Linked DNA regions of Homo sapiens: all the other regions are linked to region 1. Evidence: fine-mapped expression QTL. A gene starts in region 1. Each other region holds a variant in brackets. All regions are shown on one strand. Distances are between the middles of the regions. Region 1 holds the start of KDM5A (lysine demethylase 5A). Region 2 overlaps KDM5A (lysine demethylase 5A). Region 3 overlaps KDM5A (lysine demethylase 5A). Region 4 has its middle 4.1 kb from the start of SLC6A13. Region 5 overlaps KDM5A (lysine demethylase 5A). Region 6 overlaps SLC6A13 (solute carrier family 6 member 13). Region 7 holds the start of SLC6A13 (solute carrier family 6 member 13).

Region 1 (4,069 bases):
GTCTCACTCTTCTTGCCTAGGCTGGAGTACAGTGGCACGATCTCGGCTTACTACAACTTCCACCTCCTGGGTTCAAGCAATTCTCCTGCCTCAGCCTCCTGGATAGCTGGGATTACAGGCGCCTGCCACCACGCCTGGGCTAATTGTTGTACATTTTTAATAGAGACAGGATTTCACCATGTTGGCCAGGCTGGTCTCAAACTCCTGACCTCAGGTGATCTGCCCGCCTTGGCCTCAAAAAGTGCTGGGATTACAGGCGTGAGCCACTGCACCTGGACATAAATCATTATAATAATTGTATGGAATTATTATGAATCACAGCGTCCTGTGTCTACACCCCTTTGTAATGTGACATTGTCACTCTTCTCATAAAAAATTGGAATTTTCCCACTTCTTGAATCTGGGATGGTCTTATGACTTGCTTTGACCAACAGAATATGATGGAGTGATCTTGTACATTTTGGAGTCTAGGCTTTAGGTCTTTGCTTCCACTCTCATCTTCTTAGAATGCTAAGACCACCATGCAGTGGAAAAGCTCCATCTACCAGAAGATGAGAAGCCATGTGGAGAACTAAGACTTCCCAGCCAATAGCCAGCACCAACTGCCAGACACGTAAGTGAGGCCATCTTGAACCCTCCAACCCTAGATGTATTCACGGTTCTCCAGAGAAACAGAACCAATAAGATGTGTGTGTGTGTGTGTGTGTGTGTTTATAAAGATATTTATTTTAAGGACTTGACTCACTTGATTATAGAGCTTCCAAGTCCAAAATCTGCAGGGTGGGTTGGCAGGCTGGAGGCCAGGGAAAAGGTGATGCTACAGTTCAAGTCTGAGAGCCATCTACTGGCAAAATTCCTTCTTGCTCATGGAAGGTCAGTCTTTTGTTCTATTCAGGCCTTCAGTTGATTGGATAAGGCCTACTCACATTATGGAGGGCAATCTGCGTTATTCAAAGTCCCCTGATTTGTTACTCAGAGGTGAGAAAAATCATGGTGTACTAAAGTCACCACAAAAACTTCTGTAGATCATATGGAGAAGCAGGAGAGATGAAGCTGGAGAGCAAAGCAGCAAATCAGCAATTAAAAAAGATGTTTGGAGTTGTTGAGTTTGGAGATGAAAAGTGACAAGATGAATTCTGGATTTTAGACAAAGCAATCCAACGTGTGGATGGAGAGGGATTTGAGAGGAGAAATCAGCTGTTGTCAGTAAGAGTATTTAAATTAGGATACTGGTAACGGGGATGGAGAGACACACGATTATACATGGGAAGTGAGAGCAGAAAGAATTAGGATTATTTCTTGATTTTTTTTTTTTTTTTTTTTTTTTGCTCAGGCAACTGAATAGATGAAGTCATTAATGGAAACCAGGAACACTGAAGAAACAGTGAACAATTAAAGTACTTTGAGTTATCAAAGTGAGATGTCCTGCAGGTAGCTAGACGATACTGGCTGGTAATTCAGGAGAGCTGCTGCGTCCTGTGTAAAAGGAAAAGCAATTCATGGATGGTGGCTAAAGCCAGCTGGCAGGATTTAGGGGATGGGTTAGACCTGCACTTGTTTTGATGGAGAAGAGGCGGGTATAAAGTGGCAGAGTGAGATTACTGTAAAATATCTGCATTCAAAGGGCTAAAAAAAGAGAAATGCTGGAAAGGCTACTTGCTATAAACGCAGCAGGGTAGGTTAAAACAAATTACGAAGCACGGGCGGTGAGGCGCGGTGCTTAAGATTAAGCCCGGCGTGTTTTCGAGTGCACTGATACACAAAAGGGAAAGGGACCCTCCTCACCGGAAGCACAACCTCTGCCCTCTGGGGCATTACACATTCCTCCGCGCCGGAAGAAAGCGTCACGTCGCGTCGCGCCTCGCCCCGCCTCGTTGCGCCTCGCCCCGCCTCGCCCCGTCGGCTTCCCTCAATCCGTACCTCTAGTAAAGAAGAGCTTGTGCCCCTCCCCGACCCCTTACCAAGGGCGAGCTGCGTGGAGTCGTTGGACTGGGCAGAACTTTGGCGGGCAAGGAGACAAACAGCCACACTGTGCTGCCGGGGAAGAGAAGAAGAAGGAAAGGCCAGACACACAGGCGTCGTGCAGCTGCGGAAGGATTCCGTTTCCTGCAGGGGGCGGAGGGATTTGACAGCACGGTAACTTCCGGAAAAGTCCTGAACCTCAGTGGAAAAGCCTTGCAAGAAACAATAACAAACGGGAGGAGGAAGCGATTCTGGGGTTTCTGTGTTGAACGGTTCTTGTCCGCGAAGATGCGCTTCGGCCTCTGTCAGGGGACTTGAACGGGCTTAGTGGGCTTCAGCCAGCTTTTCTCCACCGGTTCCCCACGGGGACCCCCCCCCCCCCCCGGCCGTTGCAATGGCGGGCGTGGGGCCGGGGGGCTACGCGGCGGAGTTCGTGCCACCGCCAGAGTGCCCCGTCTTTGAGCCGAGTTGGGAGGAGTTCACAGATCCGCTCAGCTTTATCGGCCGCATCCGGCCTTTGGCGGAGAAAACCGGCATCTGCAAAATTCGGCCGCCCAAGGTACCTCAGTCTGTGAAGAGAGAGGGGGAGAAGGAAGAATGGGGGAGTCCGTACACTGGGTTTAGCTTTACTTTTCTGATCCTTGTCTCGTTTCATATGTACTCTCTTTTGAGACAACTGGAGCCTGTTTCTGGATGTTTTTGCCTCGGTTTCTTTTGTGGTCTTATGTAGACACGTCTGAAAGCGAGAAAGTGGTGTCTCTTGGGCCTCTTCCGCCTAGAACTTGGGAACTGATACTTTTCTCTCAGCCGTGGGCCTAAAGCCTTTCGTTAGCCGATATGGTGTTTAAAGTACAGTATTATGACGTGACGTATTCTTCCCTCACGTATCCTCATTATGGTTTGATAGTCGGCTATCTCTTTATTCAAGACCTGGTTGGATCAAATATTTGCAGGCCTCATCTCAGGGCTAGGGTTTCTGAAAAGGTTATCTGAGCTCTAGTCTCACCGGATGGTATTACTAGACAAGAACTCCAGACTAATTATTGCCGCAGTGAAAAAGTCTTAGCGGGGAAAGAGAAGGAGCAGCAATAATTCTAAAATTTAGAGGTTTAGGAAAAATTGGTTTATAGTGGAGGTGGAAGGAAATGTTGAAATCTCTTGACGTAGGGAACTCAAGATCAACGATTTTAGAATCACAGTTATTGCAGATAACTAGGTTTGCCTATAAGGTTAATTATAATCTCACCTTTGAGGTAAGGAAAACAGATACTATCCCTTGTGTGGAGGGGATTAATGCCCCAAGAGGTTGAGTGATTACTCAAGGTCAAAGGTGTTTTTCTTTACTCATTAGACCAGTGCTTTTTAAATGATGTTGCTGGACCACTTGCACCAGGGTCAACTGGATGCTTGTTTAAATGCAGATCTCTAGTCTTGTTGTGGAAGTTCTGGAATCTGCTTTTCTAGCAACTAGTCTCAGATGATTCTCATGTAAGTTGAGGTTTTCGAACCATTGCTTTAGTCGTTGCTTGTTAAAGGCATTTTGCTTTATGTTTTGTCTAGTATTAGTAATGATAAAATATTAAGCACTGTTAACCAGTGTTGCTTTTTAAAAAGCATCTGCCGTCACCACTGACTACCACAGAGATAGGCACCGCAGCGTATTAAAAACTTAAATGACAGCGAGGAGGAACTAATTTAACACCTATAGATTGTTTGCTTTAATCTTTGAAGCCCTGACAGGTAAATAAAGTCCGCCTTTTACAGATGAGGCTAATCTGGATAAGTTAAAACACCAAATGTGTGATCTTGGGCAAGTGGCAAAGTGTATTTTGAACCTAGATCAGTTTTTCTGATTCTGAAACAGACGTAATGCTCTCACTATGTTGAATGACTTTGTTTAAGGTTATAGACTACTCATTTCAAGCAGAGGATTAACAAATAATTGCTATGATGATACGCATTGCCATCCTCCAAAAACTTCCATTTAACCCTTTTTTCTATCATAATTACCTAATATTAACAAATCTTAAGCATTGAAGGTTTTCCTAAGTCATATTTTTATCTACTCTTGAATTTATTAATTAGAAATTCTATTCACGGTTACTTT
Region 2 (4,069 bases), 85 kb after region 1:
AAAATCTGTATTTGTTTTACTCATCTTATAATCCCTTATGGCTTAGAGGAACTAGAAAAACAATATGTAAAGCTTTCTTGGCCAATTTCAGTTTTTCAGATTTTTTTCTTTGAGTTGTGAAAGTCTGTATACAGTTAAGTTTTAAGAATTCCATTCTAGGCTTGGTGTGGTGGCTCATGCCTGTAAACCTAACAATTTAGGGGAGACTGAGGTGGAAGGATCACTTGAGCCCAGGAGTTTGAGACCAGCCTGTGCAACATATTGAGACCCCCATCTCTACAAAAAATACAAAAATTAGTTGGGTGTGGTAGCACACACCTGTAGTCCCAGCTACTTGGGAGGCTGAAGTGGGAGGATTGCTTTGAGCCTAGGAGGTCGAGGCTGCAGTGAGCCATGATTGCACCACTGCCCTCCAGCCTGGGCAGCACAAGACCTTGTCTCAAAAAAAAAAAAAAAAAAAAAACACTTCCATTGCTAGAGTCTTTTGCTCTGCTTTCTCGTCTGGATGGTGCTAGATAGAATGTCACATTCGGAGATGGGTAATATAATACTTGGGCCCAGGTTAGAATTTGCTGAGTTCCAGTTGCAGATACAACAAATTATTTACCATCAATGTGATTATTTTGGTAATGACACGTTACTGGTGGTGAAGAGAAGGTTTTGACAAGTTTGTTTTGTGTTGGATCCAGTTGGCTTTTCGTTAGCCCTTTTTGTCAGGTGCAAGCCCTTTGCTTTTTAACCTAGTAATAACAATGTGATTAGGCAGAGACCCTGCCAGATTACAGTCAATCCATTGACTTGTTTTATATGATTCTTAGTTGCTTTGTTTAGAATCTATTCTTGTAACCTGGGAATTCCTACTCTGATACAAAAGGCTGCTTCCAGAGAACAAGGGGAGATTCTGTTCCTACCCCTTCACTATCTTTTATTTGTCTTTTCAGCTTGCAGATCAGCATGGTACTGCTCATTAATCTCATCAGCATTAAAACTCCTAGGATATAAAATTAAAACCATCCATCATAGACGCTCGTAGATTCCTCTGCTGGGAAATATTTTTTCTCAAGATAGAAATGGGAATTTTCAGTTATGTGACTTAAAGACTTGAAAACAGTTGAAACTTGAATTAGACTGTTCAAATAATCTTTTTTTATATTAAAATATCTTATTATATGGTAGATTATTATTTTTCAGTTTTGAAAGTTTTGTGAACAGATGGCCAAGTTTTGTTGCACTGATTTTCAAGGGCTGATTGAGGGCCATTATTAAGAAAAGAGGCATTACAGTTGCGTACAGTTCTTGAATATCATCTTAGTGTACTGCTAAATCCCATTATGAAGAATTCATTGGCAGTCTGCTGAAAGGTACACTAGCTTATACCACACACAGCGGTACATTCTTAAGCACGTTGTTATCCAGAAGTTAATGACTATCTTTGTTTACGAAGTTGTATATAGGGTGACTAAGAGCAGCTGAAAAGAAATGCAACCCATGCCAAGTATAATTAGCTTTTTCCTTGAATACTGGAATCACCCGTTTACCCTAGTTAGAGGCCTTTGATATTTTTGGTGGTTGCTTTCTAGCACATTAGCTATCAGCCACTCTTCTAGAATTGCTTAACATGATGGGCTTTGCTTGAAAGCAGACTGGTAACCTATGAAAACATCACAAGTATTGATGATTTTCAGGACTAGGGATCACAACTGCAGTTTCATATGGTTGGATGGAGTAGTCTTTTTGTGGAGGAATTTATATGAGAATCTTAGCTTACTGTCTCTTTGGTAGTGGGTATTGGCAGGGTAGAAAAATAAGATTATGGATTTTCTAGTGTTAGCAATGTATTTGACAGCTGAGAAGAATGGTGGCAAGACTTATGGTAATTCAAGTTCAAATTTACTTTGCAGTCAGATGCTCTACCACTGAGCTATATACCCCTGCCAATTTACTTTGATGTTGATATCTTTGAATGAAAAAAAAAAAAAAAAAAA[AG/G]CCTATACTCTTGAGCATTTTCCCACAGAGCAAGCGATAATTGTATAATGAAAATTTTATTTGCCGGTTTATTTGCATTTGACCTGGTGGTTTTTTCCTTTGTGTGATGTCCTCTGTTGTGACCATAAATTCATAACTTAAAATACTTTGAACTTAGTATTCTTGCTTGAGGAAGAGCCCCCTCTTGGTTTAGGAGGAGGGGTAGGTAATTATTTAGTAAAATAAAATCAGTCATTTTATCTTAGTTACCATCCAGAAAATCATTACTTACGAGGTACATATTTAATGAAGCAAAGTCTGTCCTGCATCTTTTGGGATTGTGTCTATGTAGGTGAGCTTGTGGAAACTAATTTCAAGGAGAATCATAGACCTAATCAGAGCTCACTTAACATTGCAAGGACTTTAAGTGTAACAATGAGATTAATGGGCAGTACCAAGCTGATCTGCAAGCTGAACTTATTTTTCCCCCTCATCACTGTTATAATGAAATGAAAACAACTTTATTCAAAGACCTGCTACTATACTTCCTTTTGCTTAAAGGCAGTTTCTAAGAACCTACCAATGACATTACATGAAGACTTACTGTAATCTATATATTGTCAGTCAGACATATACTTGTATTAAGAGCAATTGGTAAGATTCTAGGTTTGAAAACCTGTAGAGAGGATTAAATGGTTTGTGTCCTTAGGCTGTCACATCTAAATTTATCTTCCCCTCCTTAACTTGTTGGTATAGGAGTTATTATAGGTTGTAGACTATAGAAGGTAGATTACTTAACCATAATTTTTTTTGTATTATACTTTAAGTTCTGGGGTACATGTGCAGAACGTACAGGTTTGCTACATAGGTATACACGTGCCATGGTGGTTTGCTGCACCCATCAACCACATTAGGTATTTCTCCTAATGCTATGCCTCCCCTAGGCCTGCACCCCTGGACAGGCCCTGCTGTGTGATGTTCCCCTCCCTGTGTCCATATGTTCTCGTTGTTCAACTCCCACTTATGAGTGAGAACATGCAGTGTTTGGTTTCCTGTTCTTGTGTTAGTTTGCTGAGAATGATGGTTTCCAGCTTCATCCATGTCTCTGCAAAGGACACGAACTCATCTTTTTTTATGGCTACGTAGTATTCCATGGTATATATGTGCTGCATTTTCTTCATCTATTCTATCATTGGTGGGCATTTGGGCTGGTTCCAAGTCTTTGCTGTTGTGAACAGCACTGCAGTAAACATATGTGTGCATGTGTCTATAGTAGAATGATTTATAATCCTTTGGGTATATACCCAGTAATGGGATTGCTGGGTCAAATGGTAATTCTAGTTCTAGATTCTTGAGGAATTGCCAGAGTCTTCCACAATGGTTGAACTAATTGACACTCCCACCAACAGTGTAAAAGCATTCGTGTTTCTCCACATCCTCTGTAGCATCTGTTGTTTCCTGACTTTTTAATGATTGCCATTTTAGCTGGTGTGAGATGGTATCTCATTGTGGTTTTGATTTGCAATTCTCTAGCGACAGTGATGATGAGCATTTTTTCATATGTTTGTTGGCTGCATAAATGTCTTCTTTTGAGAAGTGTCTGTTCATATTCTTCGCCTACTTTTTGATGGGGTGGTTTTTTTCTTGTAAATTTGTTTAAGTTCTTTGTAGATTCTGGATATTAGCCCTTTGTCAGATGGATAGATGGCAAAAATTTTCTCCCATTCCGTAGGTTGCCTGTTCACTCTGCTGATAGTTTCTTTTGCTGTGCAGAAGCTCTTTAGTTTAATTAGATCCCATTTGTCTATTTTGCCTTTTTTGCCATTGCTTTTGTTGTTGTAGTCATGAAGTCTTTGCCCATGCCCATGTCCTGAATGGTGTTGCCTAGGTTTTCTTCTAGGGTTTTTGTGGTTTTAGGTCTTACCTTTAAGTCTTTAATCCATCTTGAGTTAATTTTTGTGTGAGGTGTAAGGAAGGGATCCAGTTTCAGCTTTCTGCATATGGCTAAGCCAGTTTTCCCAACACCATTTATTAAATAGGGAGTCCTTTCCCCATTTCTTTTTGTCAGGTTTGTCAAAGATCAGATGGTTGTAGATGTATGGTG
Region 3 (4,069 bases), 110 kb after region 1:
GTATTCATGAGGTAATGGAGTACCTAAGAGGCCTAATTTTGTGGACACACTATGGTGAAATATAATTTTGGGGTATTAACTTCTCAGCTTCTTTCTTTAAAAAATAACCCCATAAGAAGTCATTGCCTATCTAGACATCCCAGTTGTTTGCTATTGTTTAAGCCAAGAAAGCTCTTTGGTTTGCTTTTATTCTAGGCTTAATGTTTATGTAACCTAAACATTCCCCAATCTTGTTTCCTACAGGTAGACTGGGTACAATGTGATGGTGGCTGTGATGAGTGGTTTCATCAAGTTTGTGTGGGTGTATCTCCAGAAATGGCTGAAAATGAAGATTACATCTGTATAAACTGTGCAAAGAAGCAGGGGCCAGTTAGCCCAGGTCCAGCACCACCTCCTTCCTTCATAATGAGCTACAAACTACCAATGGAGGATCTTAAAGAGACCAGTTAGCAGATGCTTGGTTAGTTTGGGACATGGGGGGACATGGACCACATTGAGACCTTAGTCATCAAGTAGAGTGGTTTATATCCACTTGGAATGTTGCTTCCAAAGATGAATGGCCTTCAGAGAAAGTCCCCTTAGTGCTGGCTTCCTCTTTGCATGGACTCTGTGGGTTACATTCTCTATCAACATATCTATGCAGAGGGTGTCTTCTTTGGTACAACAGCCAATATTTCATGTCTCCTTTGAGTGTGGTTTACTGCATTAAGGCCAGATGCTTAATTGAGCTCTAGGGTGGCTGGTTAGTATTAATACATTGGTGTGCTAACAGGGCATATAGGATGTGGCTTTTGTCCAGCTGATAGTAGTTAGAGGCTTACAACTTAGGAGCAGCACCAACTGAAGGTGCTAATTGCTTGGATCTCCTTCATTGGGATAGTTGGAGAGGGATTGGAGTACCACTTTCCTTCCACTGTTACCTGGTACTTAATGCCCTAAAGATACAACTAGGAGTAACAGGGCCAAAGTTATTTCTGTTAGACGTCAAGGAATGGTATCACAGTCTATTGACCTCAGCGATTTGTGCTTGTTTGTGCTAGAAGAACATCCCAAATAGGAGAACCTCTCACAAGCTGGGGCAGGTCACCTTATCTTTGTAAGATGAGGATATCATCTAGATCAGAAATCTGACTAGATTGGATTCTGAGGAGAAGAACCTACTACAAGGCAAGGAGCCGTTTTTTGGCTTTGAAAAGTCTTGCTGTCTTGGGTCTACATTTTAGGGAAGAGCAGGTACATGGATCCAGGCTTCTGCCAAAAAAAAAAAGAGAAGAAGATGACGATGATGACCAGTCGTACTATCTTACTGAGCCACAGTGATGCATGCTTTTCGGGGAAAACTTCATTCACAAGTATTCCAGACACCAGGCTTCAGGCATGGCCATGAGCAAGACCAGCAAATAACAGCTTTTTGCCTTGCAGCCCTGACCCCAATGTCTGCTGTTTCCAACACTGGTGATTTCTAACTACGGCCCACAGCAGATGCTGTTGAATAACACCATGGCTTCATCAGAGGATGTGGGGTTGTAGTACCTCTGGGTGATGAAGTTGTTTTAGTAAATCCATTTTT[A/T]AAAAAAAAAAAGGACTTGTTTTTACTTTTTTCTAAATGTCTCTGACTACTGACTGTTCTATACATAGATTATTTTTCCTTTTTTAATATACATATATGAATATATAAATATATATATTTACTGTTACCAGCAGCATATGACAGAGTTTCAACATCAAAAATCCATTTGGGGGCTTGCTTTTTCTTTTTTGCTTTAAAAAAAAAAATCCCATTCCTTCTTTGTAGTACAAGGAGTTAGCACTCCCTCCTCCATCCCAGCCTGACCAGATCTTCCATTTTGCTTTTGTTCATATAGATAATTATATGTCCTTTGTGTGTTGGGACTTGTCCCTGTCTGTTGGGAAACTTGGTCTCACTCTAGTCTGTGCTGGCTCTTTTTTCTTTTGTGTGTGAATGTTTGAAACTATGGTGCTGTGTCCTCTTCCCTCCTGTTGTGTTCTCTGTTCTTCTTAAGGTATTAGGTAAGCTGTATGTAAACTCTTATTAGAAGGGGACTAATTTTTTTTTAAAGGACAAAAAAAAAAATGACTAAAAATAGTGTTTTGTCATCACTGTCTGGTGTCTTTATTTTGGTTTAAAAAAATCTGTGGTTTGACTTAAATTCATCAGTTTTCCTTTTAAAGGGGGGATTGGGGTGGACCTAGCAACAGCTTATAGTTTCCTCTTCCCTTTTTGCCCCAGTCTCTTTTAAAGAACTGTCTTCTAGTAACTAGAAGTGAAATGTACTGTCCAGTTACAGTTTGAGTGGGTATGAGATTTAACTCAAAAGGAATCTTACAAAAAAAAAGATGTTTTCTTATAAAATCCAATTTCTGTAAATGTTTTCTCTGAAGTTCATACTACCTACTTTTTATTCATTCTTAATACTGTATAACATTTTGAGTGTTTTGACTTGTTCAGAGGTTTGTTAGTGTTGCTGTGCATATGTCTTGAGGTCTCATCTGAAGTAAGTTTGTGTATGATCGAAGATTTCAATGGATATTGCAAGGTAACTAATTAACTGATTTCATAAGTTTTCGTTTTGCCAAGCTAACGATTATCAATTAAGAATTTCCTCTGGTTGATGTTATACAAGAAAGCACAATATTTTTTGCCTGTTGATCTTCTTTGTAACAGTCTTCAGATATTTGTGGGTTAAAAATTGAATGTAATTTTAAGTGACAGATGCCTGGAATACATTTAAAATTTTTATTTTTCCTTCCTAATCATCCATTAACTATTCCACTATCAGTGGAGAGTCATGAGGATGCTGAGAAAGTATGAATAGCTTCCTGTCACCTTCTGACGTTTTGAAACTTAAATATGTCTTTTCGTTGATACTGTGGGATTTTCTGTATTTACTTGACAGTCATGGAGGATTTGGTATGACTTGACCACAGGTTTAGACCAAGGCTGAGAAGAACAGAAGGGAGAAATTAATGGCAAAACAAAAAATACACAAATCTGCGGTTTTGGAATTAATGAAACAAGATTCATCTATTTAAAGAAATGTTGGTGTTCTAATACAAAGCATTATTTTCACTTAGAGAAAATTACTTACTTGCTCCCTTCTGTATTGTAATATTTTGTATTAAGACATGATTTAAAATGTCTTTCTACCCTTATCTCCTCTAAACTGCAACTGAAGTTGCAATTCTTCATCATTAGTATTTTAACTCTGGCAAAGGTTATAGAAAGAAAAATGGAAATATGGTAGGCCTGTGGTATTCTTAAAAGCTAAGTCATTAGAACTATGCAGATCCCCAAGTTTAAAAGTACAAATACAGCACCAGTAGTTAGCTTTCTAGCTGGGGGAGAAGACAGGAGATTTTTCTTCCACAGATGTTTATTTTGCTTCCTGATAGGTACTGCAGCAAAGCCATGTTGATGTGTAGATGCATGACTTCCTCACTAAGCTGCTGCACACCAGCTTTGCCTGCATGATTCAAATTTGTGCCTCAGTAAAATTATAAATTATTGCATGTCATACCTTGAATAATGGAAACGGCAAACATTAAACCTGTGATTACCCATAATGTACTTTAATAATAAAAAACATGGCAGCCAGGTGCAGTAGAGTGCACCTGTGGTCAGGAGGCTGAAGTGGGAAGATTGCTTCAACCTGTGAGTTTGAGTCCCGCCTGGTCAACAGCGAGACCCCATGTGTCTGTCTGTCTCTCTCTTTTTTTAAAGGACAGAGGCTAAGCTGTAAGGTTAGCATGGTTCTGCCTGGGCTTTGCTTCTGTGCTTCTGTGCAGGCTGAGCTGTAAGGTTAGCATGGTTCTGCCTGGGCTTTGCTTCTGCGCTTCTGTGCAGGCTGAGCTGTAAGGTTAGCATGGTTCTGCCTGGGCTTTGCTTCTGCGCTTCTGTGCAGGCTGAGCTGTAAGGTTAGCATGGTTCTGCCTGGGCTTTGCTTCTGCGCTTCTGTGCTAGCAGGTGCCCACAAAATGTCTTTTTGAATTTCTTAATTTTTGGGTTCTGGATGCAATTCGTGCACGCCAAGAAACTACTTGCTTGTCA
Region 4 (4,069 bases), 120 kb after region 1:
AAAAAAATATTTTTTTAATGGAGGGAATACGGATAAGATATAACAAGAGCGGGTAAAGTTGGGATTGGGCTTAGTGTGAAGGAGGAGAATATAGGGAAGAGGGGGTGAAAACCCGTGGCCAAGGCCTTGAGAACAGGTAGAGGGGCCTTCCTCCCGCTACAGTCACCACTTTCTGTGACGTCAGTTCACTCCTCCGAGTTTATGTGGCTGTTATGGCTGAGAAAGAGAAAAGAAGCCCCTGACAGCTGGAAATTGGACAGACACTATCAGTTAGGCTTTGTATTGCTAGGAGCTGCCCTGGTGTTTGTTCTCACATGTCAATGTCAGGCAAGGCCACTCTGTGATCATGGTGGATCCAGACACAAATAAGATCACCCTGTGATGATGTCTGAATAAAGACAACAACGTAAACATTGTCCAAACCACACAAGCGATCGAACATCTTTTGCCGGCTAACACAAGTGACTGCTCCTTCCTTGCCAATCACAGCTTTTCACTTCACTTCGTTCTCCTGCTTTCTAGACAAAATCCATTAGGAAACCTAATTATAAAATTACTCCTCCTTCCTCACAGCATCCAATCCAAAGCAAAGCCCTGCTTCCTGAAGCCTCCTGAAAATCACCTAACAGAAATTCATCCGATAACAAGTCCTCAGCGACGCCCTCTGACTGAGACACCTCACAGTTTACATTGTGTGCACTCTCCCTTGTTGCCACGAGTAATGAACCCAACTTGTGTGTTCCTCGCGGTCTTTGGCTCACGGGCATTGACGGCACAGTTTGAGCAGGCTGTGTCTGTTTTTTCTTGTTTGGGGAAACAGGACAGATGAGAGCTGCCATGTTTCCCAGTCATGGGAAAACAATCATGTTTCCCTTCTGGGTCCCCTCTCTCTCTGGGCTGAGACATGAGAGATGAGATTCCGGCCACACTTTGCATTCCTCATCAGTCAGCTGTGTGATCAGTGCATCAATATATTTTTCTCATCACAAATAACGTCCTGCAGTGGTGGTTAAAAATGTTTAGGATAAAAGACTGTCCATCGATTGAAGTTGCTCTTTTTAAATGTCACTCTGCCCTAATCCCTCACCGCAGCTCCATAGTGTCAGGGTGTCTCCATTCACTCAGAACCCCTGCTCACTAACTGTTCATCAGCCAAGAGCTTCCCACTGAGACTAGTTACATAAGTGTTGCAAACTGTATGTACTCTGAGAGTCAGACAAGAAATCAGGGAAACAGGGATTGGAAGAAACAGGATAAAATTGGGAAATAACTGCAATTACTTTTCTAGAGTTAAAGACAAAAGGTATGATTTTCCTTAATAGGGCAGAGTAGTAGGAGAGAATTGTGGAACACATTGGGATAGGAAGAGAGCCTTCTGATTAGATTTTTAAAGTATTATTCAGGTCTGATGAGATTTTCAGTGAAAGCAACATTTTTCTTGTCATTTTCGTTATTCACCTCTTTCCTAAGAAAGTTATGTTTAATCCCACGGGCCAGCAATAGCCAAAATAAACAGTACTAGAGCTGTGCTTTTTAGTGTTTTTCTTGTCTTTTTTCCTCCCCCTCTAGACTTAAAGTATAGATAGCATGGTAGCTATAAGTAAATAATGGACTTTAGAATTCTACAAACCTGAGTTCAAAACCTGGGTCTACCATTTACTAGTTATGTGGCCTAGCAAGTAATTTAATTATCTCTAAGCCTTTGTTTTCCTGTCTTTAAATGGTCATGTCAGTAATTCTTGTGTCGTAGGTTTGTTCTGAGGATAAATGCGATGGTGCCTGTGTAGCACTTAGCACCACGTCTGGCACATTTGAAATGCACGACAAACGTTACTAATGGTAATGGTTGACGTCATTAATATTCTTTGTCATAAGTCTTGTTTCTTTCAGATCTTGGGTCTGGCATGGTGGCTTACGCCTATAATCCCAGTGCTTTGGGAGTCTGAGGCAGGATTGCTTGAGGCTAGGAGTTTAAGACCAGCCTGGGCAATATAGCAAAACCCTATCTCTATAAAAGATTAAAAAATAATTAGCTGGGCATGATGGTGCAAACCTGTAGTCCCAGCTACTGGGGAGACTGAGTTGGGCGGATCCTTTGAACCTGGGAGGTTGAGGCTGCAGTGACCTATGATTGTGCCACTGCACTCCAGCTTGGGCAATAGAATGAGACCCTCATCTCAAAACAAACAAACAAACAAACAAAGAAACAAGAAAACAAATTGGAGTTGATAGAATTTAGGTGAATTATCCCATCTGGGATCAAACAGAAAACGCTTCACAGTTTTCAGTGACACCTCTGGTTTCCGCAC[G/A]TAACATCCCAGAGCTTTTCACAGCAGGGTCAAGTACTTGGGCTGTAATAGAGTGTAAACAAAAATCTTCAACAACAACAACAAAAAAAAAAAAACCAAAAAAACTTTATTTTAAGCTAATTTTAGACTTACAGAAAAATTGCAAAAATAGTACAGAGAGTTTCCATCTTTCACTCAGCTTCCCCTAACGTTAGCATCTTTCACAACCATAGTACAATTGTTAGAACGAGGAAATTAACATTGGTAGAGAACTATTAAACTAAAGACCTTATGCAACTTTCACCAGTTTTTACATTCATGTCCTTTTCTATTCCAGGATCCTATCTAGGATCCCATTCAGGACCCCACATTGCATTTAGTTGTGATTTTCCCTTAGTCTCCTGCAGCCTAAAACACTTGCTCAGTCTTTGTTGTCTTGTCTGTCTTGTCTTTCATGACACTTTTGAAGAGTAGTGATCGGTAATTTTGTCAAATGCCCCTCACTTTGGGTTCGTCTTATGTTTCTTGTGATTGAACCGCATGTTTGGCAAGAATACCACAGAAATGTTGTGTCACTCTTAGTACATCATATCCATGGTTCATGATATAGAGAGATATTGATGTCTTATTACTATCTTATTACTGGTGATGTTGACCTTGGTCATTTGGTTAAGGTGGTTTCTGCCTGGCTTCTCTACTTCAAAATCACTATTTTTCCCTTTGTAGTTAATAAATATCTTGGGGGAGACACTTTGGAATTGTAAAAATTCTGTTCCTCCTGGAACTTTCACCCACTAGTTTTAGCATTCATTGGTAGATCTTGTCTGCAACAATTATTATAGTGGTGTTTGTCTAATGGTGATTTTCTGTTTTTCTCTTTCCTTCTACATTTATTAAGACTTCTTTTTCTTTGAGATGGGGTCTTGCTGTGTTGCCTCAAACTCCTGAGCTTAAGTAATCCTCCCACCTCAGCCTCCCTGAGTAACTGAGATTACAGGTGCATGCCACCATGCTCGGCATCCTTCTATATGTATTAATTGGAATTCAACTGTAAGGAAGACTAGTCCTTTTATCCCACTTATTAACTTGTTGGTTATTTGTATCAGCATGAACTTATTAGTGAACTTTGTTCTTTGGGCTACAATCCAATACTATCATTATTCATTTTGTTGTTCAAATTATTTCAGTTATAGCAAAAGCCATAATTTGTTGTTTAGTCTGTTCTACTTGCTCTTTTCTTTTCTTTCAGTGTGATGTTTGAAAAGGGATCCAAAAAGTCAACAGGTTTCTGACTCCTGTGGTTAAACAGAACTATATCTCTTAATTTAAAGGTCTCCAGAGGAGAACCCACCACTTCCTTTGCCACCTTGATGTTGCTCAGAAATGTTCTTTCTTGAAACAAATCGTGCTGCTTTTAAAATTTGTTTCTGTGAAATGTCAAACTAGAAAAAAATTTTATTTGTTCTTATTCCACTCCTAGTAGAGTCAAACAATTTTTGGGAGAGCGTATCATGGCGTACTGTCATTTAAACATACCTGGGATCAACTTGGTACAAACCAGGACTCCTAGGCCTGCTTTTTGCGTGGTTCACTTTGTTTTATACAATCCTGTTGTTGGAAGCACAGCCTTCAATTATCCTCACTGACAATCTCTAGTGAGTCTTAAAACTTATGCAGCCTCTTGAGTAAGAACTGTTGAATACGGATTCTGTTGTTACCTGTTTTCAGGTTTCTTGACTTTGCACCCAGCAGACCAAAGGATGATGGCAACGTGAGGTAGA
Region 5 (4,069 bases), 54 kb after region 1:
GGGCACGGTGGCTCATGCTTGTAATCTCAGCACTTTGGGAGGTCAGGGCGGGCAGATCACTTGAGGTCAGCAGTTTGAGACCAGCCTGGCCAACATGGTGAAACCCCATCTCTACTGAGAACACAAAAATTAGCCGGGCATGGTGGCAGGTGCCTGTAATCCCAGCTACTCGGGAGGCTGAGGCAGGAGAATCGCTTGAACCCAGGAGGTGGAGGTTGCAGTGAGCTGAGATTGTGCCACTACATTCCAGCCTTGGCAACAGTGAGACTCTGTCTCAAAAAAAAAAAAAAAAGTTTAGAAATATTTGATTCTATGTTTATCATATTGTTTCGTTTTTCAAAACTTATGTTTCCCTTTTGAATATAGGATAAATCTCAGATTCTCAGTCCAAAACTTAAGATTAAAGATCTCATCTTTTTTTCTAATGTTATTTCCTGTGTTTTTGCGTATGACTCTTCCATTCTGCCTTTTCACCAGCTAGACTAGTATATTCTCTCTGTAATTTACCTTTTACATTCTTGTAGCTCTTCCTCCTAGAATGTTTATTCAAATCTTATCTATCCTTCAAAGCTCAACACAATTTCTTCCTTGCTGTGAAGTTTTCCTAACAATCTTTATTAGTCCATTCTTGTACTGCTATAAATAAATACTCGAGGCTGGGTAATTTATAAAGAAGAGAGGCTGTACAGGTTCCACAGGCTGAACAGGTAGCATGGCTGAGGAGGCTTCGGGAAACTTTCAATTATGGCAGAAGGTGAAGGCTAAGCAGGCACGTCTTACATGGCCAGAGCAGGAGGAAGAGAGAGAAGCGGGAGTTGCCCCACACTTTTAAACAACCAGATCTCGTGAGAACTCACTATTGTGAGAACAGCAAGGGGGAAATCTGCCCACATGATCCGGTCACCTTCCACCAGGTCCCTCCTCCAACATTGGGGATTCCAATTCAACATGAGATTTGGGTAGAGACACAAATCCAAACCATATCACAATCCAAACCCATGATGATCACTGTTTTATTGTCCTCTGAAGAACTGTATTTTCTCTTCTATATGTATTTGGAATTTTATATATGTTACCTTGTATTGTAACTTTTTTTTTTTTTTTGAGATGGAGTCTCGCTCTGTTGCCCAGGCTGGAGTGCAGTGATGCAATCTTGACTCACTGCAACCTCCACCTCCTGGGTTCAAGCACTGCCTCAGCCTCCTGAGTATCTGGGGCCACAGGCATGCACCACCACGCTTGGCTGATTTTTGTATTTTTACTAGTGATGGGATTTCACGGTGTTGGCCAGTCTGGTTTCGAACTCCTGACCTCAAGTAATCCACCAGCTTCGGCCTCCCAGTGTTCTTTTTGTTTGTAGACCTTGTCTCTTCAATGAAATTCACTATTTTTCAGCCAGCCAGCTGACCAACCAATCACAAAACATATTGAGTAATAACCTGTTGAGATTCTTTTATTTCCTTTTTTGTTAGCCTGTTGAACTTTAGGAATAGATCTGTCATTTCTTATTGGAATTCTTAGTTAAACCTGTGTTGGACTTTGTTATTCCATCCTCTGTGACTTTTTTTTTTTTTTTTTTTAGTGAGACAGGGTCTCACTCTGTCTTTCAGGCTGGAGTGCAGTGGCATGATCTCGGCTCACAGCTTCAATCTCCCGGGCTCACGGGATCCTCCCACCTCAGCATCCCTAGTAGCTGGAACTACAGGCGCACGCCACCA[C/T]GCCTGACTAATTTTTGTATTTTTTGTAGAGATGGGGTCCCGCCATGTTGACCAGGCTGGTCTCAAATTCCTGGGCTGAAGTCATCTGCCTGCCATGACCTCCCAAAGTGCTGAGATTACAGGCATGAGCCACCATGCCCAGCTTCTCTCTATTTTTTTTTTTTTTTTTTTTTTTTTGAGATGAAGTATCGCTCTTGTTGCCCAGACTGGAGTGCAATGCCGCGATCTCGGCTCACTGCAATCTCTGCCTCCCGGGTTCAAGTGATTCTCCTGCCTCAGCCTCCCCAGTAGCTGGGATTACAGGTGCCCGCCACCATGCCCAGCTAATTTTTTGTATTTTTAGTAGAGACAGGGTTTCACTATGTTGGCCAGGCTGGTCTCAAACTCCTGACCTCAGGTCATCTACCCACCTCACCCTCCCAAAGTGCTGGGATTACAGATGTGAGCCACCGTGCCCAGCCCGCCTCTCTGTGACTCTTAATTACAGTTTGATAGTTTATATATTTCTGTGCTGCCTTATAGATAATCTCCTCAAACATGTCTTCTAGTTCACAAATTCTCTTTAGCTTTGTCATTGGCTCTTTAACTTCTTACCTTGAGGGTTTTTTATTTTTAACTTGTATTATAGAAACTTCTAAACAGTAAGCACAATAATGACCCTACCCCCACCCCTGCCAGTTCCTGACATCCACATTCAGTTATCAACTTTTTAATAGCAGATTCTCATATCTGCTTCTGCATTCAATCTGTTATGATAGCACATACCATCTTTCCCCTGGAAAACTCACACTGTACTCCTGCAAAAATGTAAGTGAAAAAGACAAATAATGTCTTAGAATTATTGTGAAAATAGTTTGACTTAGTGGATCCTCTGGATCCCATTTTGAGAACTGTTCTCCATAAGGATGATAAGCACTTTAAGTCATAGCCTCATATGGCTGCAGAGATGGATGTTTGAAAGTCCTTCTCCGGTGCCAATATCCAAGTAGAAGCCCCTGTGAAAACTCTTGCAACAGCTTCCTTTTTCATTATGGCTTGCTTCCACTCTGTTTCCAGAAACTGGGAATTCCCTTTTCTTTTGGGTTCACCTATGAAGTTTTTTTGGTTATTGTTATAATTTATCCAGTATTTCTAGGTGTGTTTGTATAATGGTTAGGAGTGATGGTGGTGACTTTCTGCATCCTGTCAGTCTTATTGTTATAATTTATCCGGTATTTCTAGGTGTGTTTGTATAATGGTTAGGAGTGATGGTGGTGACTTTCTGCATCCTGTCAGTCTTATTGTTATAATTTATCCGGTATTTCTAGGTGTGTTTGTATAATGGTTAGGAGTGATGGCGGTGACTTTCTGCATCATGTCAGTCTTCATTGTTGTCACAAGTTCAAGATTATGTATATTGTATTTTGTCTTTACAGTATCTAGCACCATTCTATCAATATAGTAGTAAACATTTTAGGAAATTATGCTACTGGCTATAAAATAGAAATAGTGATGTTGTATTAAGATGGGTCTCATACTGTTTTCCTGATTGGCTGGAGAATAACAAGAATTGCTCATGTGCTTTGGAGTAAACCAGAGGTATCTGAAATAAAGGGAAATCTAAATAGAACATAGACAGAAGGTAGGATTAAATGTTTAGTTATATGAGTTACATGTAGTGGATAGCAAAGAGCACAGATTGTATGCACTAGACTATTATAAATATTATAAAAAAATTTTCTGGGAAGACTCCCTTGGCATTTCTATTGAGCACTTTTCATTTCTGATCTTTCATTTACAGTTTTTTCTTCTCTTATAGGAATATGCACTTTCTGGTTGGAATTTGAATAACATGCCTGTCCTGGAACAGTCTGTTCTTGCACATATTAATGTGGACATCTCTGGTATGAAAGTGCCGTGGCTCTATGTGGGAATGTGCTTCTCTTCTTTTTGCTGGCACATTGAGGATCACTGGAGTTATTCCATCAACTACTTGCACTGGTATGTACAGTCTAAAATACAGCATGCATGAACTCTACTAAAGTCTAGTGGATTAATGATGCTAGGTTTTTGATCTTTAAGGTTTATAGACAGAAGTATATTTAAGGTTTCAATAATTTCTAGCCTTGGCCTATTTCTTTGGGTAGTAAAATTGAACTCAGTGAAGCTATTTAGAAGTATCCTAGAGAGCACTGACTTATTTTGATCATTGTGGGGATAATTGAAATGTCCATTATTCACATGGACCTCTGAATCAAGGTCATGTGTCAGCATCCTTTGGGACAGTGCTTACTTTTCATATAGTGTCTTTCCCGTTTGAAGGTGTTTTCACTGATCCGCCTTACAGAGTTCATGTGCTGAGTTGCTTTTTT
Region 6 (4,069 bases), 140 kb after region 1:
CGGCCAATTTCTGTATTTTTAGTTGAGACGAGGTTTTGCCGTGTTGGCCAGGCTGGTCTCGAACTCCTGACTTCAGGTGATCTGCCCACCTTGGCCTCCCAAAGTGCTGGGATTACAGGCATGAGCCACTGCGCCCGGACAGTCATCTTACATTTTAAAATAATCTCTCTAGCTGGTATGTTGAGAACTGAGTATAGGGGAGTGAAGGCAGAAGCTGACTGGTTATAAGGCAAAAATCTTGGAGTCATCCTTAATTTCCTCCACCTCTCATAGCTCTTGACTCTACCCAAACACCCAGGTCCTGGGAGCTTCAGGACCTCTCCAGCTCCCTGGACCCTGGTTGCTGGCAGAGCGAGTAGCTCAGCACCCGAATGCCTGGGACTAGAGCCCCCGCGATGAGATGTGCAGGACCCGACCACTTCTCATCCCCTCCACTGCTAGCACCCATCTAAGCAATCCGAGAGTTTTCACCTGAGTGACTGGAAGGAAGGAGCTGCCATTCACTGAGACGTGGAAGGCCATGAAGGGAGCAAGGTTTTGTGTTTTGTTTTGTTGTTGTTGTTGTTTTTAATAGAGAGGGGGTTTCGCCATGTTGGCCAGGCTGGTCTCAAACTCCTGGTCTCAAGTGATCTGCCTGCCTCGGCCTCCCAAAGTGCTGGGATTACAGGCATAAGCCACTGTGCCTAGCCCCAGAGGAGCAGGTTTTGAAGGGAAAGTAAGGAGGTGAATTTTGGGAAAGTTGAGTTGAGGTATCTATCAGATGTCCATGTGGAAATGGCAACTGGGCAATAGAATGTGAGTTTGGGGTTTGTGAGAGAGATCTGGCTGGAGGTGTGTATTTGGGGATCATTAGCATTTTGATGGTATAAGAAAAGAAAGTAAGGACCTTTAGTGGGTCTGGGAGAAGATGGGAAACCAGCAGAGGAGACAGAAAATGAGAAACTGGTAAAGCAGGATGAAAACCAAGAGAATGAAGTGTTTTGGAAAGTCGAGTGAAGAAATTCTATCAGGGAGGAGGGAGAAATTAACTGCAGCAAAGGCTGCAGATAGGTTAAGAAGATGAGGAAAGGAAATTGATTGTTGGTTTTAGCAGCTGGGAAGTCATTGATGATAAGAGCGGTTACAGTGGAGGGCTGGGGACAATGACTGATTGAAATGGATTTAAGATAATGGGGGAGATGGGAGAAAGGAATTGGAAATAGTAAATGTGGGTTATTGGGGCAAAATGTGGGAGTAGGTAAAATCCACCCCTTCCTTGTGTATTTCCCTTCTGGGCGGAAGGGGGCCATGTGAGTCCTGCGTAGCAGTGACAGTGTGCCAGTGGCCAGACTCCTCGGGGGTGGGGCCCTGAGCTGGCGAGGCGGCTGAAGAAGCTTGACATTTGAACTATTCCTCCAGCCCTCCACCCTCAGCTGCCAGGAGGGAAAGCAAATACGATTTTCTACTAGGGCCTGCCCAGTTAAAGTTCCAGTCATGGGACGAGGAGATGCTGGATAACGCAGGAGGCGTGATGTGGGAAGAAGGTAGCGGGAGAGGGTTCTGGTCATAGGACTGTCCATAGCCAGCGGGGAATTTAAATCACCTTCCTGCCTATCTCAGCCCAGATGAAAAAACCGTCTGCCAACATTTTCACTTAATTTCTAAGTCCAGGTTGCTGAAATTTCACTCGGGGCAGAAGTTACCCGTGCCAAGAACCTTTTAAGTTTTCCACTAGTCTCAGGACACCAGCTGGAGACCATCTTTTGCGAGGACTTCCTCCCTGTCCCCTCCAACTCCTCTTCAGAGCCTCAGTCTTCCCATACCTAGGTCCTGGGTGCTTCAGAACACGGGCCTTCAGCTGAGACCTCTCCAACTGCCTGGACCCTGGCTGCTGGCAGACCAAGTTGCTCAACACCCAGAATTAACTTGGGACTGGAGTCCCCATGTGAGGCCACGACAGGAGGCACACAGCAGGACCTCTCAGAAGGGCCTGGAGGGGAAAGATCCCTCAGCTCCAGCCTGTAAAGAAGGTGCACTGGGATGCCCACACAAAGAGGATTCCCTTG[G/A]CAGCAAGGAAAACCATTAGCCCTGTGCTGTTTATAGATAGCAGAGAATAAAGAGAAATAAGAAGCACTGTTCGTGTGTTCATATAAAAGTAATGGTTAATTTAGCAGTGAGTGACAGTGTGTTACCAAGTGTAGTTAATGACTCAGGGCCCACTGTTGGTCAGGCTCATGCCGAGGACAGCACATAACTCCTCATGGAAGCTCCTCGCTCTTCTGTTGCTCAAGTGGAAGATCGTCAGTTTATGCCGTAAGAAATTGGCTGGAACGTTACAAGTGACACCACAGAGCGTGCTCCTTTTGAGAAGGGGGGCCAAGAGAGTGATTGCTTTCTGGGACGGGGATATGGTCTCTCCTATCTCACGGAGAAAATGCCAGCACATTTTAGAATTTTTGAGGAGACTAGTATGGATGATATGGGGGTGCAGGTTACTGTGAACTCCACCCCCCATCCCCAGGACTAACTTCATCTTTTGATGGTGGTACCTGCGGAGGGGAAGAGGCAGAATGCCCTTCAGCACTCCTCAGTCCGTACCTGGCCCCCTTGGCTCCCTCCCACCCCGACCCCTCTCACACTTCTAGGGCCTGTAGCCCCTCCTTGCAGGTGTGGACTTTGTCCCTCTTGGCAGGCTGCCAAGGAGCTCAACGAGGCAGAGGAAGGAGGTGGGAGCAGCTGACCACGGGGCCCAGAGTTAAACATTGGCTTGGTTTATAGAGAAAGAGCAGGAAGCATGAATATGGGAAGGGGCTTGGGCTGGGCCCATAGCTGTTTCTTTCTGGACTGGGCTCTCCACAGTGACTGTTCCTGTCAGCTGCTGGGTTCTATCTTTCCTGTTTTCCTTCCTGCTCAGCAAACCTTGGGTTGATTTATGGACTTCTTTGGCTGAATTGTTTGCTACCTTTCCTTCTTTGTCCTCATGATCAAGTCCCCCTTAGTGCCTGAATTATGGATGTGTAGAATACAACCTTGAGAAGTGGGAGGTGAAGAACTGGAGAACTGGGTTCCTCATTAACTTACAATAAACCACACATAGTTAAAGTGTACAATTTGATAAATTTTGACATATGTATATACGCATGAAACCACTGCCACAATTGAGATAGTAAACATGTCCATCACTTCCAAAACAGTTACTCCTGTCTCTTTCTAATTCCTTCCTCCCAACTTCACTCCTGCCATCACATCCCAGTGCAATCAATAATTATGCTAAATGCAAACTAAACTAGTTTGTTTTTCTTAGAATATTATATAGATGGAATCATACAGTGTGTTGATAATTATGAAAATTGTGATACCACCATACCTTAGTTTGCGTTTCTTAGAATATTATATAAATGGAATCATATGGTATGTTGATAATTATGATACAGCATAATTATTTAGGGTTTCATTTATAGTTTTCATGTATCAGTAGTTTATCCTTTGTTATCGAGGTATCTTCATATATTCTAACACACAAGTCCTTTATCAGAAATGCATTTTACAAATACTATTTTTTTCATTCTGTGTTTTGTAATTTTCCTTTTCTTTTTTTTGAGATGGGATCTCACTCTGTCACCCAGGCCGAAGTGCAATGGTGCAGTGCAATGGTGCAGTCACGGCTCACTGCATCCTTGACCTTCTGAGCTCAAATGATCTTCCCACCACAGCCTCCCAAAAGTAGCTGCGACTATAGGCATGTGCCACCATGCCCGGAAAATTAAAAACTTTTTTTTTTTTTGGTAGAGACGAGGTCTCACTATGTTGCCTAGGCTGATCTCAAACTCCTGGGCTCAAGCGATCCTCCAGCCTTGGCCTCCCAAAGTGCTGGGATTACAGGCGTGAGCCACTGCACCTGGACTGTTTTTCCTGTTTCTAACAGTGTCTTTAGAAGAGAAGGCGTTTTAAATTTTTATGATGTCTGGTTTATAAATTATTTATTTTATAAACCATACTTTTGATATCATATAAAGAGATCTTTGCCTAACCCAAGGCCTCATATTTTCTTCTAGAAGATGTATAGTTTTAGGTTTGACATTTAGCTCTA
Region 7 (4,069 bases), 130 kb after region 1:
TTCTGGAACCACACTTTAAATAGCCAGCACCTTCTCCTTCCCCCTTAGATAATTCTTCTCCCCTGACTGGACCTCTGGCAGCAGCTTCACTAAGGTTCGAAATGTTTTCTTCTCTTTTTTTTCTATTTCTGCGTCTCAGACTGCAGGTTGGTGGGATCCATGGGACTTACAACCAAAGGACTTTTTTCTTACCCTCGCCTAGAAAGTACGCTTCTGACATGTATGTGTGCAAATGCAAAGATTATGTGCTATTTTCTTGACTTTCTGAAACTTGGGTGGCTGTTGACTTAAGTGACACTGTGATTTGGAAAGAGAGAGCCCTAGATTGAGAGGAAAGACAACTGGATTTAACTCCAAGAAAACAAAGTCTTTCTTCTCTGAGAAAAGAGAACAATGATCAACTCTGACAGGACTGAAAGAAAACAAAAATTTGAGTACCTGTTATTCTATTAAGTGTGTATACATATGTATATTTCCTCATTTAATTCTTATAGCTAAGTATATCCTATCTATCATCCCCACTTTTACAGATGAACAAACTAAGGCTCAGAGTCATTCATTAACTTCTCTGAAGTCAGACATTGGTATGAGAAAAAACTAATGTTTGAACCTGGCCTCATCTGACTCTACAGCTCATGACCTTTCAGACACAACATGCTACCTCTGAGAAGCAGCTCTAATGAGGCTAAGGGAGCCAGGAGAAGGCTACTGTTTCTCCTAGGGTCTGGGAGGGTGGAGAAGGGAAGGCTTTCCATCACTGGGAGAGATCCATCAGCTGGTAAAGGGAGGGGAGGCCAGCACAGTCAGTACCTTAGACAACCTTCCCAAAAGGACTGAGGAGCCCTCTTGGGACCAGTTACTTGAGTTTCTCCTTTGTAGAAAGGAGCTCATTCCCTAATTTATCAGATAAACATAGATGCCTGCTGTTCCCTGACTTTTTTTTTTTTTCTTTTTTTTGAGACAGAGTCTCGCTTTGTTGCCCAGACTGGAGTGCAGTGGCGCGATCTCGGCTCACTGCAACCTCTGCCTCCTGGTTTCAAGCGATTCTCCTGCCTCAGCCTCCTGAGTAGCTGGGATTACAGGTGCCTGCCACCATGCCCAGCTAATTTTTGTACTTTTCGTAGAGACGGGGTGTCACCATGTTGGCCAGGCTGGTCTCAAACTCCTGACCTCAGGAGATCCACCCGCCTCGGCCTCCCAAGTGCTGGGATTACAGGCGTGAGCCATTGCACCCGGCCTGTTCACTGACTTTCTAATTTTCTGGGTCAGAGCCAAAGTAGAGTCTGTGGCCAGAAGAGGTTACTGCTGAGAAAGTTCTGTTAACATGAACTTTGCTTGAGGCTTAGAAAAAAGTCCATCTGCCTCCTTCTCCAGAAAAGAGGCCACTCTGCAAAATCAAGGCAGAGTCATTAGAAGATGCTTTTAGTAGACACACCAGTGAACCTAGGCAGCCAATGTAATCAAAGGGATGGAACTGAAAGAGCAGGGGCAGAGTGGGTTTAAGTCCTGGCTGTGCAAGTTAGTAGCTATATGGCAGCAGCAGTCACATTATTTAACCTCTCTGAGCTGCAACTTCCTTATTTATAAAGTGGAGGTAATAATGCTTACATCTCAGGGTTGTTGTGAGAATTAAATGAAAAGAATGTATGTGAAGTGCCTAGTCTATAGTAGTTGCTAACTAAATGTGGGCCACGTCCAGTCATCCTCAATCCCAACAGTGGTCTGGAATGGGCCATTTCTGACAGTGAATGGTTAAAACTGTGGCTTTTTATTTATATCATCTTCTCTACTGTCACAGACTCCTAATTTGTCATCACCAAAAAAGAAAAAGAGCGCATAGTAAATCTCTGCCTTACGCTGATTTCAGAGAGACATAGAAGGAGTACTTAGACCACCTCATCTTACTCACAATTCCTGGTCCCACTCAACCTCTCCCAATCCTTTGACAGGATTTTTTTTTAAAACCGGCTTTTATTTTTATATTACAAAAGTAAAACACATTTTTGATGTAATTGTAGAAAATATAGATAAGGAAATGTTCCTATAACCCAACTGCTGAAAGAAAAACATTTTCATGGCTATCCTACTCCTTCAATGCCTATAAATACTTTATAAAATATTTGTCAAGCATGATCATATTGTATGTACTGTTTTTTACTATATATTGTGAGCACCCTTTTGTGCCGATATACTTGTTTCTATAACAC[AGG/G]TTTTAATGATTATATATAGTAGTCCATTATATGAATGTGCCATAATTTATCAACATATCTACCATTTTTGACAATTTATGTACTTTCCGATTTTTCGCTGTTATGAACAATAAATATCCTAATGCTACACCTTTCACTCACAATCACAATTATTTCCTTAGCATAAATTCCTGCAAGGGAAATTGGTGGCTTTGAGGACATGTAAAATCCCATCCTTTCAACGTGTCCCAGCATACAGAGTAAACAGACTGAAGCACATGCTAATCCCGACGAGGCTGACTGTAGGGTGGCAGGGAGAATTTAGACAGCACAGCGGCCCATGAACTCCTCCATGTCTGCAATCCTCAACCCAAGAGGGCCTTATAGTGGAAGCAAAGGCTGTCTGTCAGTACCAACACTTTCTTCCTGAAACAGGAAAGGAATATATGTTTTCAGTAGCTGTCACCCAGCTTCTACCAATGAGAACTGCTAAGGAGGACATGGTCTACAGGGAAGGGAATAGAAATTCACCTCTTCCAGTGCATTCATTCCCTTATGGATTTGTTGGTAAAAGCAGGAGGAGGGGTTTCCTTCTGGGGTTCCCAACAGTAACAGAGCATCCCACTTGTTTTCCAGGTGGGATGGATAGCAGGGTCTCAGGCACAACCAGTAATGGAGAGACAAAACCAGTGTATCCAGTCATGGAAAAGAAGGAGGAAGATGGCACCCTGGAGCGGGGGCACTGGAACAACAAGATGGAGTTTGTGCTGTCAGTGGCTGGGGAGATCATTGGCTTAGGCAACGTCTGGAGGTTTCCCTATCTCTGCTACAAAAATGGGGGAGGTGAGATGAGAGCCCTTGTGCCACCCCACCCACTCCTGGAAGGAGGATACTTCCATCTCCTGCACTTACGGCCCCTCTGGGGAGTCCCATAGATGTATAGAATTCTGGAGGTAGGAGGACGCTTAGAGGTCATTAAGGACACTCTGTAAGAGACTAAGACCTAGAAAGGTTACGTGACTATCCCAGGGCTCTTTCTATTATAACGTGGCATCGTAGAAATATGAGCACAAGCTGGAACCAGGTGGATGAGAGTTTGGATTCTGGCTCTGCTACTTAACACTCTGTGTGATCTTGGACAAGTTACTTAAGCTCTCAGAGCATCAATTGCCGCTCCTGCAAATTGAGATAATAATGCCTGCCTTTCAAGGTCATTGTAAGGATTAGAGACAATGTGTGTAAAGCACTTAATAAATAGTAGCTCTGCTGATGATGACGTTGATAACCAAACTGTTCTGTGGTCTTAAGTAATAAATAGTAGCTCTGCTGATGATGACGTTGATAACCAAACTGTTCTGTGGTCTTAAGTAATAAGTAGTAGCTCTGTTGATGATGACGTTGATAACCAAACTGTTCTGTGGTCTTAAGTAATAAGTAGTAGCTCTGCTGATGATGACGTTGATAACCAAACTGTTCTGTGGTCTTAAGTAATAAATAGTAGCTCTGCTGATGATGATGTTGATAACCAAACTGTTCTGTGGTCTTAAGTAATAAATAGTAGCTCTGCTGATGATGACGTTGATAACCAAACTGTTCTGTGGTCTTAAGTAATAAATAGTAGCTCTGCTGATGATGACGTTGATAACCAAACTGTTCTGTGGTCTTAAGTAATAAATAGTAGCTCTGCTGATGATGACGTTGATAACCAAACTGTTCTGTGGTCTTAAGGTTCCCCAGCCTTGGTCTTGTGTCTTTTTCCTACTTTGCTGGCACGGTGAGGCTCCCTAAGCCATCCATTACCCAGCCCCTTCTAGTATAGGCTCTCTTTTTAAAAATTTCGCAGCACAAATGTGTGCATGTTGTAGGGGGAGCATGACCTC

What was found.
Region 2: its variant is fine-mapped to the expression of KDM5A in whole blood (INTERVAL, PIP 0.98).
Region 3: its variant is fine-mapped to the expression of KDM5A in whole blood (TOPMed, PIP above 0.99).
Region 4: its variant is fine-mapped to the expression of KDM5A in whole blood (INTERVAL, PIP 0.98).
Region 5: its variant is fine-mapped to the expression of KDM5A in whole blood (TOPMed, PIP above 0.99).
Region 6: its variant is fine-mapped to the expression of KDM5A in whole blood (INTERVAL, PIP 0.97).
Region 7: its variant is fine-mapped to the expression of KDM5A in whole blood (TOPMed, PIP above 0.99).

What each region holds. Positions count from the first base shown.
Region 1 is chr12:387,379-391,447 of GRCh38, reverse strand. It overlaps KDM5A (lysine demethylase 5A), which reads left to right and starts at 2,128. Exons shown (of 28, transcript NM_001042603.3): 1 at 2,128-2,521. The coding sequence starts at 2,357. LOC105369594 (a long non-coding RNA gene) reads left to right here. Exons shown (of 4, transcript XR_007063149.1): 4 at 507-1,415. It also overlaps a transcript of CCDC77 not described here. RefSeq lists an enhancer at 1,671-1,965.
Region 2 is chr12:302,364-306,432 of GRCh38, reverse strand. All of the region lies in intron 24 of KDM5A (lysine demethylase 5A), which reads left to right. Among named protein-coding and RNA genes, the nearest start is that of SLC6A13, 42 kb to the right of the region's middle. The variant AG/G (reference allele first, on the strand shown) is at 1,986.
Region 3 is chr12:281,837-285,905 of GRCh38, reverse strand. KDM5A (lysine demethylase 5A) reads left to right here. Exons shown (of 28, transcript NM_001042603.3): 28 at 244-4,069. The coding sequence ends at 450. Among named protein-coding and RNA genes, the nearest start is that of SLC6A13, 21 kb to the right of the region's middle. The variant A/T (reference allele first, on the strand shown) is at 1,571.
Region 4 is chr12:264,861-268,929 of GRCh38, reverse strand. No RefSeq gene overlaps it. Among named protein-coding and RNA genes, the nearest start is that of SLC6A13, 4.1 kb to the right of the region's middle. The variant G/A (reference allele first, on the strand shown) is at 2,310.
Region 5 is chr12:333,870-337,938 of GRCh38, reverse strand. It overlaps KDM5A (lysine demethylase 5A), which reads left to right. Exons shown (of 28, transcript NM_001042603.3): 11 at 3,517-3,698. Among named protein-coding and RNA genes, the nearest start is that of KDM5A, 53 kb to the left of the region's middle. The variant C/T (reference allele first, on the strand shown) is at 1,719.
Region 6 is chr12:251,485-255,553 of GRCh38, reverse strand. The region is part of intron 2 of SLC6A13 (solute carrier family 6 member 13); the gene reads left to right. LOC102723544 (a long non-coding RNA gene) reads left to right here. Exons shown (of 3, transcript NR_120482.1): 3 at 1,807-2,112. Among named protein-coding and RNA genes, the nearest start is that of SLC6A13, 9.3 kb to the left of the region's middle. The variant G/A (reference allele first, on the strand shown) is at 2,046.
Region 7 is chr12:258,814-262,882 of GRCh38, reverse strand. SLC6A13 (solute carrier family 6 member 13) reads left to right here and starts at 47. Exons shown (of 15, transcript NM_016615.5): 1 at 47-94; 2 at 2,826-3,032. The coding sequence starts at 2,831. The variant AGG/G (reference allele first, on the strand shown) is at 2,208.